2 linked regions of the Homo sapiens genome follow. Each later gene encodes a partner of the first gene's protein in a complex. Each region holds a gene or a part of one and is shown on either strand. Other genes may lie near its edges.

Region 1 (7,276 bases):
CAGTGGTACCATCATAGCTCACTGCAGCCTGGACTTCCTGGGCTCAACCAATCCTCCCACCTCAACCTCCCCAGTAGTTGGGACTACACATATGCACCACTACACCTGGCTTTTCTTTTTTTTTTTTCTTTAAATAGAAATAAGGTCTCACTATGTTGCCCAGGCTGTATGTAACCTTTTTTATTAGTTCGTTCCCTTCAAAATACACATTTTTTGTAACAGAACTGAAAATCATCCATCAAAACCTTCAAAAAAAGGTTTGATTTCTTCATCCTGTACTAATCAATCCAAACATAACATGCTGTTTTATATACACACAAATAGCAGGAAGAAGTATGCCTTTGTGTTGAAAACAATAAGTGAAACAAAAAAATAAAAATAAAATAAAAAATATATGCATACATACATATACACATACATGTAGAGAAAGGGACTTAACTCACTGGCTCCAGTAAGCATCTAGAGGTCTGCCTCCATAGGCTCAGCAGAGGATCCAGCTAGAGAAAACTTATTTTATTTTTTTGAGACAGAGTTTCGTTCTGTCACCCAGGCTGGAGTGCAGTGGCGTGATCTCAGCTCACTGCAACCTCCACCTCCCGGGGTCAAGTGATTCTCCTGCCTCAGCCTCCTAAATAGCAGGAATTATAGACACGTGCCATCACGCTCGGCTAATTTTTGTATTTTTAGTAGAGACGGGGTTTCACCACGTTGGTCAGGCTGATCTCGAACTCCTGACCTCATGATCCGCCCACCCCAGCCTCCCAGAGTGCTGGGATTACAGGCATAAGCCACCGTGCCAGGCCGAGAAAACTTATTAATACATGCTCTACCTGCTAAATATTTTCCTTCAAAGCAAAGGAAGGGCCGGGCACGGTGGCTCACACCTGTAATCCCAGCAGTTTGGGAGGCCAAGACAGGCGGATCATTTGAGGTCAGGAGTTCAAGACCAGCCTGGCCAACATGATGAAACCCCATCTCTACTAAAAATACAAAAACTAGCCAGGTTTGGTGGCACACACCTTGTAATCCCAGCTCTAGAGAGGCCAAGGCAAGAATCACTTGAACCGGGAGGAGGTTGCAGTGAGCTGAGACTGCACCACCGCACTCCATCCAGCCTGGGTGACAGAGCAAGACTCCTCAAAGAAGAAAAAAAAAAATGCAAGCTGGGTGCGGTGACTCACACCTGTAATCCCAGCACTTTGGGAGGCCAAGGTGGGTGGATCACAAGGTCAGGAGTTCAAGACCAGCCTGGCCAAGATGGCAAAATCTTGTCTCTACTAAAAAATACAAAAAAATTAGCTGAGCATGGTGGCACATACCTGTAATCCCAGCACTTTGGGAGGCTGAGGCAGAGAATTTCTTAAACCCGGGAGGCAGAGGTTGCAGTGGGCCGAGACTGCGCCACTGCCATCTAGCCTGGGTGACAGAGCGAGACTCCATATCAAAAAAAAAAAAAAAAAGGAAACAAAGATCTCATTCTAACAGGCTGAGCATCTATATTTTGCCAACATACCCCAGGTGATTCTGAATTAAGGCCAGGCTAAGAAGCACTGACTTGATGAGATGATATCCAGGCAATGCCTTTAGAAAGGGCATTTAGTGGCCAGGTGCAGTGGCTCACACCTGTAATCCCAGCACTTTGGGAGGCCAAGGAGGGCAGGTCACTGGAGGTCAGGAGTTCGAGACCAGCCTAGCCAACATGGTGAAACCCTGTCTCTACTAAAAATACAAAAATTCAGCCGGGCACAGTGTCTCATGCCTGTAATCCTAGCACTTTGGGAGGCAGAAGCTGGTGGATCACTTGAGGTAAGGAGTTTGAGACCACACTTGCCAACATGGTGAAACCCCGTCTCTAATAAAAATACAAAAACTAGCCGGGTGTGGTAGTATGAGCCTGTAATCCCAGCTACTCAAGAGGCTGAGGCAGGAGAATTGGTGAAACCAGGAGGCGGAGGTTACAGTGAGCTGAGATCGCTCCACTGCACTCCAGCCTGGGCGACAGAGTGAGACTCTGTCTCAAAAAATAAAATAAAATAAATACAAATACAAAAATGAGCTGAGGATGGTGGCGCATGCCTGTAATCCCAGCTATTCAGGAGGCTGAGGCAGGAGAATCACTTGAAACCCGGAAGGCAGAGGTAGCAGTGAGCTGAGATCACACCACCACACTCCAGCCTGGGCGACAGAGGAAGACTCCATCTCAAAAAAAAAAAAAAAAAGAAAATGGCATTTATTAAGTGAATTTTTCTTATAGTATGTGGGAAAACATATACAAATATTAGTCATCAGCAAAATACAAAGAACATTATAGAATAATTTCAATCAACAGTGATTAGATACTTATTCTGTACCAGGCACTGCGCTAGAAATATGCAGATAAACAAGACACAGCATCCGTCCTTCAGGTCACTTTGGTATATAAGAGTGTTGTAAGCAAATAATTTCAACAGTGGGATTAATGCAATAAAATAGACAGGCTATATTTAATGAATGGGCACATTAATCACCTAAAGATCTTGTTGTAATACAGATTCTGATACAGTAAGTCTGAAGTAAGACTGAGATTCTGCATTTCTACAAAGCTCCCAATCTGCCTAAACTAACATGGTATCAGCAAGAGTGGGAAAGATGGGCCGGGAGCAGTGACTCACGCCTGTAATCCCAGCACTTTGGAAGGCCAAGATCCACTTTCGGGCAGATCACCTGAGGTTGGGAGTTTGAGACCAACCTGACCAACATGGAGAAACCCCATCTCTACCAAAAATACAAAATTAGCCGAGCGTGGTGGCACATGCCTATAATCCCAGCTACTTGGGAGCCTGAGGCGGGAGAATCACTCGAACCCAGGAGGTGGAGGTTGCAGTGAGCCAAGATTGTGCCATTGCACTCCAGCCTGGGCAACAAGAGTGAAACTCCAACTCAAAAAAAAAAAAAAAAAAAAAAGAGTGGGAAAGATGGGATGGATACCAGAGATGTTGAGGCTGAACTCAGATGACTTGGTGATGGGATAGAGGATGAGAGGATGATAAGAAGGAATCTAGGACTCCTAGGCTTCAGGTCTGGGTGACAGGCAAATAGTGGTGCCATTATCTAACCAAGACAGACAAGCCTCTAAAAAATGGATCAGTATAGTTTTGGACATGCTGAATTTAAGGTTCAATAAGGAACTTCAGTAAAAGTTTCTGTGGTCATTAGGGAAACAAACCTGATTACAGTGGGTAAAAGATGAATGACAAAAAGTAGAGATAGATAACAAAGGTTACTTTCTGAAGCCTGACAATCAAAGGAAAGAACTAATACCTGCTAAAAGATCATGGGTTTTTTTGTTTCTTTGTTAAGGTTTTATGGAAAAGACCTGTCTATGTGCACATGCTGAAGGGATAGGACTGGTTGACGAACACAGGGTAAAATTATAAGAGTGACACAAGTTTACTGAGGTGGCAGAGAGAACCTGGGGTATAAGGTCTGCCTTCGACTGATCCTTTGCTGAATGAAGAGGTTAAAAATGACTGCACATAAATTTGTCGATTGTGGGATAGACTATTCAACAGACTGAATTCAATGCTACTAAATTCATGCTAGGCTTCTATTTTTTTCTGCTAGGGAAAAGGAAAGGGCAGAATGGACAGGTTGGGTAGATGTCTCAAACAGAATCTGAAAGAACAGTTGAGGGGAGTAGCAGAGGAGCTGACGTTCCCATGGAAGGACTGCTGGTGGGGCTGAAGACTCAGCCAGGGTGGCAGACCACACACATAGATTGGCATCAATCTACTCAGCTGCATGACTTCCTCCAACTGGGCCCACAACAACCTGCCTGCAGGAGTGAAAAGGCAGACAAAGCCAGGCTAAACTTGAAGACTAGCAGTAGTTGTGGTGGGAAGACAGGAAGGTGTGGAGGCCTAAGGTAATGGGGACAGGAGAATATACGATGACCAAAAACCTGGAAATAACCCACACAGAATTTACTTAACCTAATTTAGTAGCTATATGATAAAAATGTTTTATCTTGGCCGGGTGTGGTGGCTCATGCCTGTAACCCTAGCATTTTGGGAGGCCAAGGCAGGCGGATCACGAGGTCAAGGAATCGAAACCATCTTGGCCCAAGTGGTGAAACCCTGTCTCTACTAAAAATACCAAAATTAGCTGGGCGTGGTGTCGCGTGCCTGTAGTCCCAGCTACTCGGGAGGCTGAGGCAGGAGAATCACTTGAACCCAGGAGGCAGAGGTTGCAGTGAGCCGAGATCACGCCATTGCACTCCAGTCTGGGCGACAGAGTCAGACTCCGTCTCAAAAAAAAAGAAAAAAATGTTTTATCTTTGACAAACACACCATTGCCAAGTAGAGGGGCCTACTTATTTTTTTGTTTAAGCTTATACTCATTGGGTTTTTAAAAAATTATTTTAAGTGATATGTTCATTGTAAAAGAAAAAAAAACCTATAAATACATAGAAATATATATTTTTGAGACGGAGTGTCACTTTTGTTGCCCCGGCTGGAGTGCGATGGCATGATCTCAGCTCACAGCAAACTCCGCCTCCTGGGTTCAAGCGATTCTCCTGCCTCAGCCTCCCGAGTAGCTGGGATTACAGGTGCCCGCCACCACACCTGGCTAATTTTTTTTGTTGTATTTTTAGTAGAGTCGGGATTTCACCATGTGGGTCAGGCTGGTCTCAAACTCCTGACCTCAGGTGATCCACCTGCCTTGGCCTCCCAAAGTGCTGGGATTACAGGTGTGAGCCACCGTGCCAGGCCTAAAAATATTTTTTAAATACATCACTTGTCAACCAACCACACAGAAATAACCGTTACGTTATACTTCTTTTCACTTTATACTTCTCCCTATGGGTACATTTATTAAAATCTGAAATGTGGCCGGGTATAGCAGCTCACATCTGTAATCCCGGAACTATGGGAGGCCAAGGCAGGTGGATCACCTGCGGTCAGGAGTTCAAGACCAGCCTTGCCAACATGATGAAACCCCATCTCTACCTAAAATACAAAATTAGCTGGGCAGGGTGACACATGCCTGTAATCCCAGCTACATGGGAGGCTAAGGCAGGAGAATTGCTTGAACCTGGGAGGCAGAGGTTGCAGTGAGCCAAGATGGCGCCATTGTACTCCAACCTGGGCAACAAGAGCAAAACTCCGTCTCAAAAAAAAAAAAAAAAAAAAAATTGAAATGATGGTGTTTACACCATGGTATATATTTTTGTATGCCATGAAATTATTTGCTTGTAAAAGCAATTTAAAAGTCACTGTATGTTCACTAGAAACAGATTGAAAGGAAAAAAAAGTCACTCTATGAAAATCTATGTAAAATGTTAGGTCTCACTATGTTTTGAAGACAAACCATATCAGTAGGAACTTTGTCTTTTACCTAATTTGTAAAATAGGTAATACAATGTACGTTCTTAAATCCTCTTAAACAGTATATAATAGACTATTTGTCACGTTCTATATCTTTAAAATTCTATATATAATAGATTATGTTTATATTATATTGTTAAAAGTATTCCACTGATAATTATTTCAGTGAGTTTCAATACTTACCTGTTCTTCTAACTGCATTTTACTTACTGTCCTCTGTTCTATGAGTTTATCAAGTTTCTTTAAAGATTTAAGGTCATTTCCAACTTCCTTTTCTATGAATGCAGACACATAAGAAGGGAGATCACCATTATCTGTACCTTCACTGACTTGTTTACTTCCAATAAGAACTGTAACATTTATGTCACCTACAACAAAAGAATAACAATTACTCAACGCCACTAAGTACTATGGAGTTAAAGAAAATATAAAACATATAAAAGCAGTTTATCTGCCTTCAAAAGTTAATAATTTTGCCAGGCACGGTGGCTCACACCTGTGATCCCAGCACTTTGGGAGGCTGAGGCAGGTGCATCACCTGAGGCCAGGAGTTTAAGACTAGCCTGGCAAACACGGCGAAATCCCGTCTCTACTAAAAATACAAAAATTAGCCAGGCGTGGGGGCACAGGCCTGTAGTCCCAGCTATTCGGGAGGCTGAGGCACGAGAATCCCTTGAACCCAAGAGGCAGAGGTTGCAGTGAGCCAAGATCACACCACTGCACTCCAGCCTGGGCGACACAGACAGACTCTGTATCAAAAAACAAAACCAAAACAAAGCGCCACTGCACTCCAGCCTGGGCGACAGAGACTCTGTATCAAAAAACAAAACCAAAACAAAACAAAGTTAATAATTTAAAGAACAACACACACAGACAAATGCCCAGAAGAATAGCTCTAAAGCACTCTATCAAACAACTACTGCAAAATGCTTAAGAGCTGAGGGAAGTATTAAAGGAAAAATTCCTAAAGTGTGATCCAGTAACCACAGGTTTCAATAGACAAGGAATAATACCTTTTCAAAATGTGTAAGGAACCAGTAGTATGGTCTAGGGCAACACCAAAAGAAGACTCTTGTTTTAAAGTGTTTTTAAAAAGACCGGGCGCAGGGGCTCACACCTGTAATCCCAGCACTGTGGGAGGCCAAGGCAGGAGGATCACTTGAGCCCAGAAGTTCTAGACCAGCCTAGGCAACAAAGCAAGACTTCATCTAACAAAATTAGCCAGGAATGGTGGAACACACCTGTAGTCTCAGGTGGGCTGAGGTGGGAGGATTGCTTGAGCAGCCTGGGAGATGGAGGCTGCAGTGAGCCATGATCTCACTACTACATTCCAGCCTGGACAGCAGAGCAAGACCTCATCTCTTAAAAACAAACAAACAAACAAACAAAAAAGTAAAAAAGGTTTGGCTGGGCGAGGTGGCTCAGGCCTGTAATCTCAGCACTTTGGGAGGTTGAGGCAGGCAGATCACAAGGTCAGGAGTTCGAGACCAGCCTGGCCAATATGGTGAAAACCTGTCTCTACTAAAAATACAAAAATTAGCTGGGCATGGCGGTGCACGCTTATAGTCCCAGCTACTCGGGAGGCTGAGGCAGAAGAATCGCTTGAACCCGGGAGGCGGAGGTTGCAGTGAGCCGAGATCACGCCACTGCACTCCAGCCTGGGCAACAGAGTGAGACTCTGCCTCAAAAAAAAAAAAAAAAAAGGTTTTTAAGCTTCAAATGTCATCGATGTCATTGTACAAAGATATCTTTGTCAGAAACAGAAAAAAGAAAATATGAGAGAACAAATTACTAGGAAAAAATCAAAATGACAAATGCAACCACTAAATAGTATAAAGTGAGATTCTTTCCATGGCAAATAAACTACCTGTTTTGTGACATTTAATAAGTCCAATACACATTAGGCTTAT
Region 2 (7,307 bases), on another chromosome or scaffold:
AGGAATTGAGGACACCTGTTCTAGAATACATCCATAATGGTTAAACCAAAGCTATATACTTTAGCTCTAAGCTGCATTAGAGCTAAAAACGTGCATGCGTAAATATACAAATGTATACATATACATACATATGTGTGTATATATAAATATATATATAATTAAACTCAGATAACACACATTACTTTTATTAGGCTCCACATCAGAAGTCTAAAGAACACATTTTAACTGTTAACCATATCATTACTGTAGAGAAATAAGCTATATTTACCTCGAATTGCTTTCGTGATGATAAAGGATGCACCATGTTTTTGGTTGCCTCTAGGCTGGAATTTAAAACAAAAAACACTTACATTTGAATCTTCTAGTAGTATTAGACCAGTATTACTTATACAATATGTAAACTTATTTTTATTTACTAATACTCAGAGTTTTGGGCACAGGGAAGCAGTGTCTTAAAACTACTTAAAGACTGGATGTTCAGGTGCAGTGGCTCACGCCTGTAATCTCAGCACTTTGGGATGCCAAGGTGGGCTGACTGCTTGAGCCCAGGAGCTCCAGACCTGCCTGAGCAACGTGGCAAAACCTCATCTCTACAAAAAATACAAAAATTGGCCAGGCATGGCGGTGCATGCCTATAGTCCCAGCTACTTGGGAAGCTGAGGTGACCCAGGAGGTTGAAGCTACGAAGCTACAGTGAGCCCTGATCATGCCACTGCACTCCAGCCTGGGTGACAGAGTGAGACCCTGCCTCAAAAAAAAAAAAAAAAAAAAAAAAAGTAGACACAGGACGCGGGACAATAGGAGAAAAGTGAGCATAGCAGAGCTACAGGCACATGTCAGGACTAACCTTGCAGGAAAGAACAAGGATTGAAGCTGGAAACTGTTTCCAAATCAAAAACCAATCCAAAGACAAGAGAAGTCAAGGCCAAAGACCATACTGGTTGCCAGTTCAGCATACTCTATTGAGGCTGTAAGTTTTGCTCACAGGAAAAGTGGTCATATCTCCAAGGCCAATTCATTGACTATCTGTTGTGTATCTATACAGACAATGCTACTAACAAAACATACACAGATACGTAATTGCTATATTAAATAATTCCATTCCATAAGTATAGACTGAACACACCGTGGGTAGGTTCATGACGCTAGGCACTGCATAAGATGCACTAAAGTGCTGTCAAGAAAAGCACAATGGACATACAGTAAGTGTAGACAGATTTTTTTAAAAAACACAGAAAAGTTATTTCACTCAATAAACATGAATTGATTGTTGGATTCATGCAAGACACAATTTGGCCCTGGGAAGAGATATAAAGATGAATCAGATGTCTGCCCTCCAAGAGCTTATAATTCAACAGCTGAAATCAACAGAATGCAGAAATCGATAGAATGCAGAAATCAATTGAACTCCCCCACCCCCAACACACAAACACAAAACAAAGTGCTAAGGGTTTCAAAGTAAGTTAATTCTGTGGTTACTTTTTTGGAATCAATTTATGGTAAGCATTCTGAAACATTACTGCAATTAACCAATGAGTGTTAAGGAGTGGAAACTTATCTAACCAGCTGCCTCAGCAACAGCTTCCTAGCTGCATAACCCAAAAAATATTCACATTAAGACAAACTAAGTACTTGAAATTAAACAGTAATATATGCAGATCTCTACCCGTCTACAAAATAAATTATTCATGATAAGCACAAACTGCAGTGGGAAGGAGGCTACAGAGGAAAAAAATACAAACTTTGGGCTGAAAAATGAGTCGTTTCTCCAGCAAAGAAACACTCAGAAAAAATGTAAGATAACTCACATGGGCTGGACTACATAATCTTTAATAAAGGTTCTTTTCGATCTGGCTGCTTCCTCTGGGTCTAAAACAGTAACTGGCACGTGTTAAGCACTCAATAAATATCTGTTAAATAAACATGGATCCAAAAAATAATAATAATAAAAAATAAAATAAAATAAACATGGATCCATGGTTCCTACTCTTCATCACAGACCCGGGAGGCCTTCACTACCAAACAACTGATAATCCCAAGATCCAGTCCATAAATTATCAACCTCTATAACCCTTCTGTAGCGGAGATCCCAATCCCAGTCAGCAGCTCTTTACTCTGCACTTCCGTGGCATTTTGCTCACATCGCTAACTATAGCGCATAAAACGCTAGGTTATGAAAAACGTTTACGGGACTGTCTCCCCTCTAGACGAGAAGCTCCACGAAAACATATTCATCTCTGTATCCTTAGCACCTAGCACAGCACCTGTGACACCGAGACAGACGAACGGACACGCACACCCTTATTAAATGCTCTTTTATTGAAACACACAAGACCTGGCGCGATCCAGCCCCCAGTATGGGTAAAGGCTCAGATTCTGCGCTCTGCACCAGCCTGGCAGATGCTGCAGACTGTAAGGTCCTGGAAAATTCTCCCATCGCAGTTGAGCGTCGGCCCAGACTAGCCCTAGCCAGACCGCGAGAAGGGACCACTGAGGGTCCAGATAGGAGAAAGGACCCTCGAGTCCAGCGCTGTGCCTTCCCCTCCTAATACAGAGAGCGACACTAACAATCCCCTCTCCTCCCAATACAGAGAGCGAAACTGAGAACCAAAGTGGGATCGTACGCTCCCCAGAGCACGAAGTTCCAGCCCCCAACAACCGAATTCTGAGCCCAGGAAGAATCTCAGGGACCACCACCCCACCCCGCCCTAGACCCCCGCTAGCCCAAGGTGCCGTTGCCAAGGCGACCGCACAAGCCAACCGGCCCTAGTCCCCCACCCACCCGTCTCCACTCCCCTACGTGGCTCCTGCTACGTGGCTCTACCCACGAAGCGCCCGCGCCAAGCTGGCTGCTGCTGTAGATGGGCCTGGTTCACCTGTACTTCAGTCTCCGGTGGCCACTCGGTGTTGACCAACAAGTCATAGAGAATCGTCTCCTCCTCACCCTCTGCAGTGCCTGGACTCAAAGCCGGCCCTGACTCGGGGGCCGCCATGTTCGCCGAGGACTCAGGCAGCGGAGGAGTGTCTCTACGGAATCCCTCACAGGACAAGCTTCTCTATCCGCGGCCGCTTTTGTTTCACGGCAAGGAAATGCTAGGTTAACCCTTTTATGAGTAGGAAGGACAGGGACTATTGCTTGTCTTGGGAACGACTTGTGTCCCGGTCCTGATACACTCCTTGTTCATTAATCTACATGAGATCGGCCAAGTCATTGAGCCTCTCTTATAACTCAGTTTCCATAAAACAGAAATGGTAAAGGTACCCCACTGAAATGCTAATGTTCATTTGTATATTCTTTGCCTAACACGTAGAGAGAGTTCAAACAGTGGTTTTAAAATAAACAACTAAAGTTATCCAATGAAAGGTAGCAGAGGAAGGATGCTACAGGAGCTCAGAAAAGGCAACGAAGGCCAGAGTCTGCAGGGATTTCCTGGAGGACGTGGAGCTTGTCCCTGCGTCTTTAACAATAGGCAGAATTTTAATCTACTGGAGAAGCATTTCAAGTAGCGGGAAATGGAATGAGCAGAGACAGAGGCAGAAATACAGAGTTGAAAGAACTCTTTCAACGTGTCGCCAGTGAGTGACGACTTTCTCAGTGTGGGAGTAAAAGAATTTACCAAGACAGTGGTAGATAAAGAAAGACAGATTAAAGAAAGTATGAAAGTTCGTTGCCAGGGAGCAGCGGGCCGACTCAGCAGAGGAGGAGCTCATTGCTAGGAAACAAAGGCTTGTTGAGAATTTTATAGACTGGAACTTGGAGTGATTGATAACACCAGGTAGCAGGGAGTTAACTTGCTTTTTTTTTTTCTTTCTTTCTTTTTTTTTTTTTTTTTTTGTCAGCTGAAGTGTTTCAGAAATTGAGGCATTTGAAGGTAAGCAGGAAGTTTGTGAGTTAAGTACGTTATCTGGGTAGAAGGGCCATATGTCCTGGGCCATAAAGAAAAGTAGACCTATGGCTTATTTGTTTCTTCCTTTTGTTTATATGTTTTGGACCATGAAGAAAGACAGACGTATAGCTAATTTGCCTTATCTCTTTGTTTTTCCCTGCTCCCACTAGCCTGCCTTTTTTTTTTTCCTAATTAGTACTCAACAAGACGGGTGAATAGAACCCAAGTTGAGAAAGGGTGTAGGGGCAATAAAGTTGAAATAATAGGTTGAGAACCCGCATGGAGGGAGCGAAAAGGTCAACCCCATTTGTTCATTCATTCATTCATTCAACAAATACCTCTTTGTGGACAGTTATAAGCAGAGCCTACTGTAACATGAATGAATATATACTGTACAAAGTATTACACTGTTTCACATCAAAAGAAACACAAATACTGAATATCCCTTGAGATAATTATATTCATGATATCCATCAAGATGCATTAGGCGGTGATGCAATTAAAAGCCTCTGCTGGGAAGCCTCTAACCAGCTCCCATTTCTCTCAAAGTTTAATGACCTCAAAGCCCTACGTCATCTGCCTGCTCCCCTAAATCTCACACCTCATTTCCTGCTCCCCCTACTACCTTCAGCCACACTGGCTCTATTTCTGAACACACCAGACACACATCAACTTCAGGAGTTCTGCAAAGCCTGTCCCCTCCACTTGGAAGGCTTTCTACCAGATGTTTACCTGGTTCCTCCCTTATCTCCTTCAAGTTTTTGCTCAAATGTCGTCTCTCTCTGAAGCCTACCTTGACTGCTCATTTTTAAATTTGCAATGACCATTCTCCAACTCCAGCTTTCCAGAGCTGCTCTATTATTTTTTCCATTACACTTGTCATCACTTAAATGGCTATACAGTATATTTGCTTATTATCTGTCTCCATTCACTAAAAGGTAAGCCATGCCAGGTGCTCTATCTATATGCATGCAAATGCTATATCCATCCCTGCTATATCCCCAGAATTTATAACAGTGCCTGGCATAGAGCAGAGGACAAAATATATATTATTTGTTGAATAAATGACAGACTTCCCAGAAAATCTTTTACACATTGTCTCCCCATAGTATTTCTCTGCATAGCAGCTGTGCCCTTCAATCAAACCCCTCATTGTGAACACCAGACGTGTCTTCTCCCTACCGCACAAGGCTGACAAACTGTATACCTCCGGGGAGCCCCGCCCACATTGCATGCGGTAGAACATGAAGAGGCAGGAACACCATGCACATGGAATGCGGTGTGAGGGCTGGTTACTGGAGTCCTCCAGTACCTCAGTACAACCCCACCTATTTCTCCACACCAAGTTTCCTTGGCTCTTTATTCCTCTGTCTCATCCTTTCTCAGATAGATATTGGGGTTGCTTTCTGTTTCATCACTCTCTTCACCACTTTCACTCAATCTGTACAACCACGGCCAGGAGATAGCTGGTCAAACTGGCAAAGGATGCTTCCTTCTTAGCTGGTGTGCAAAGGGGACCACTGCAAATACACCATGAAGAATTTATTTATTTTACCATCATCACACTATTTTTGTTTGTTTGTTTTTGTTTTTGAAACAGGGTCTCACTCTTTCACTGAGGCCAGAGTGCAGTGGCACAAAGAGAGCTAACTGAAATCTCTACTTCCTGGGCTCAAGCAATCCTCCCACCTCAGCCTCCTGAGTTGCTGGGACCACAGGTGCATGCCACCATGCTGGGCTAACTTTATTATTTTTTGTAGAGATGGGGGGTCTTGGACTTCTGGGCTCAAGTGATCTGCCTCGGCCTCCCACAGTGCAGGGATTACAGGCACGCACCACCATGCCCAGCCTCACACCATGTTAATTGTTTTATCCATCCTCATCCATACCCCACTTACCATAGCATGTACAAAAGGACAGAAAACATAAACTCATGCCTGGCAGAGAGCTTCTACTCTGAAGAAACAACAACCGAAGTGTCACAGGATGAATCTATGCTATTTGGAGAGGGAGTATACATTTAACTTGAAGCAATCCCTGGAAGAAAAATTCTACTAGCAGAGATGCTCTGAGCAGGTAAGTGGGTTCTTAAACCTTCAGCACCACTAGTTAAAATCCAGAAGAGTTCCTGGAAGGGGAGAAATGTGAGGTGACCAATAAAAGGGAAGAAGATGGTAAGAATATGTATGCCACAAGAAGAACTCCAAATGTTGAATATCAGACACGGGTTGGAAAAGAAAAGACAAAGATCTGATCAAGTTCAACTGAATCAAAGGAATAGGATGACTTAAAACAGATTGAGTGGCTGAAGCCAAATTGCTACTTGGTCTTATTTACAGTGACTATATAGCAAAGTATCCAAACTGGGATATTTTTGAAAAGAAAAAGCCATGATTTTAATAGTTATGCTAGGACAACAAGCATGAAACAGGGCTGTCATGGGCAAACTGAGATGATTGTCACACTAATCCTAAACAGCAGAGTGGGTAATTTAATGAAGAGGTGGTGAGCGTTTCACAAGGATAGCAAGACTCTTCTGTTCGTCATTATTCTCTTCTTTCTTCCCTCGTGCTTGTAGTGACACTGGTCATTTTTGTCTGCCCAGGCCCTTTGCTTCCTTCGGAGACTGTTCTAGCTGCTCTTCATTCACTCAGTCAGATAATTCCTAGTGGGGCCGCCAATCCCCAAACTCTGCCCCCTTGACCCAAAGAACTCCATTCCTGCTACTTTGAGCATCAGGTTGAGAATCCTTCCCTGGGATTTTTTTTTTTTTTTAAGTGGAAATGGAGGAAAAGGCTCCTTGCCTTTTTGGGTCACAGAGTTTGAAGAATATTGGGGTTATTAGCATCCATCTTATTCATTCCAGAGAGAAAGCCTGTCTATATAGTGAAAGAATGAAACCAATACATTGAAAAAAACTGAGAAGAGAAAGAGGTAGAGACTTCATCTGATACAAGCATGCTTGAAACAAGAGACACCTGTATGATTCCATCTTCCCAGGTAAGTGATCTAGTTCATTCTCTTTTATGCTTCAACTAGTTTGAGTTTCTAGGCATTGAAACCACCCCTCTCTTGGTGTTTCTACCAGTGGAGTTTGCATTATTTATTTTACCTTAAAATATAGAATATCAGACACGGGTTGGAATAAGGATTTTACCTTATTTATTTATGTACGTATTTATTTAAGACAGGCTCTTGCTGTGTCACCCAGGCTGGAGTGCAGTGGCGCAAACACAGCTCACTGTAGCCTCAACCTCCTGGATGCAAGCGATCCTCTTGTCTCAGCCTCCCAAATAGCTGGGACTACATGCACGTGTCACCACACCCAGCTAAAGATTTACCAAATTTAGAATCTGTATGTTGTGTATGGATCTCTGCAATGTTGCTTCTGAATTGACAGATTGGTGTTATTAGTTAATA

The links.
Region 2: RINT1 (region 1) and NBAS share a complex: the UniProt entries of both Homo sapiens proteins name them as parts of the NRZ complex.

What each region holds. Positions count from the first base shown.
Region 1 is NC_000007.14:105,535,023-105,542,298, reverse strand, and holds part of RINT1 (RAD50-interacting protein 1), read right to left. Parts: intron 5,735-7,276; coding exon 5,550-5,734; intron 573-5,549; exon of another isoform or gene 444-572; intron 1-443. UniProt on the Homo sapiens protein: Involved in regulation of membrane traffic between the Golgi and the endoplasmic reticulum (ER); the function is proposed to depend on its association in the NRZ complex which is believed to play a role in SNARE assembly at the ER.
Region 2 is NC_000002.12:15,558,312-15,565,618, forward strand, and holds the start of NBAS (NBAS subunit of NRZ tethering complex), read right to left. Parts: upstream 3,024-7,307; 5' UTR 2,994-3,023; coding exon 2,877-2,993; intron 324-2,876; coding exon 269-323; intron 1-268. UniProt on the Homo sapiens protein: Involved in Golgi-to-endoplasmic reticulum (ER) retrograde transport; the function is proposed to depend on its association in the NRZ complex which is believed to play a role in SNARE assembly at the ER. Required for normal embryonic development.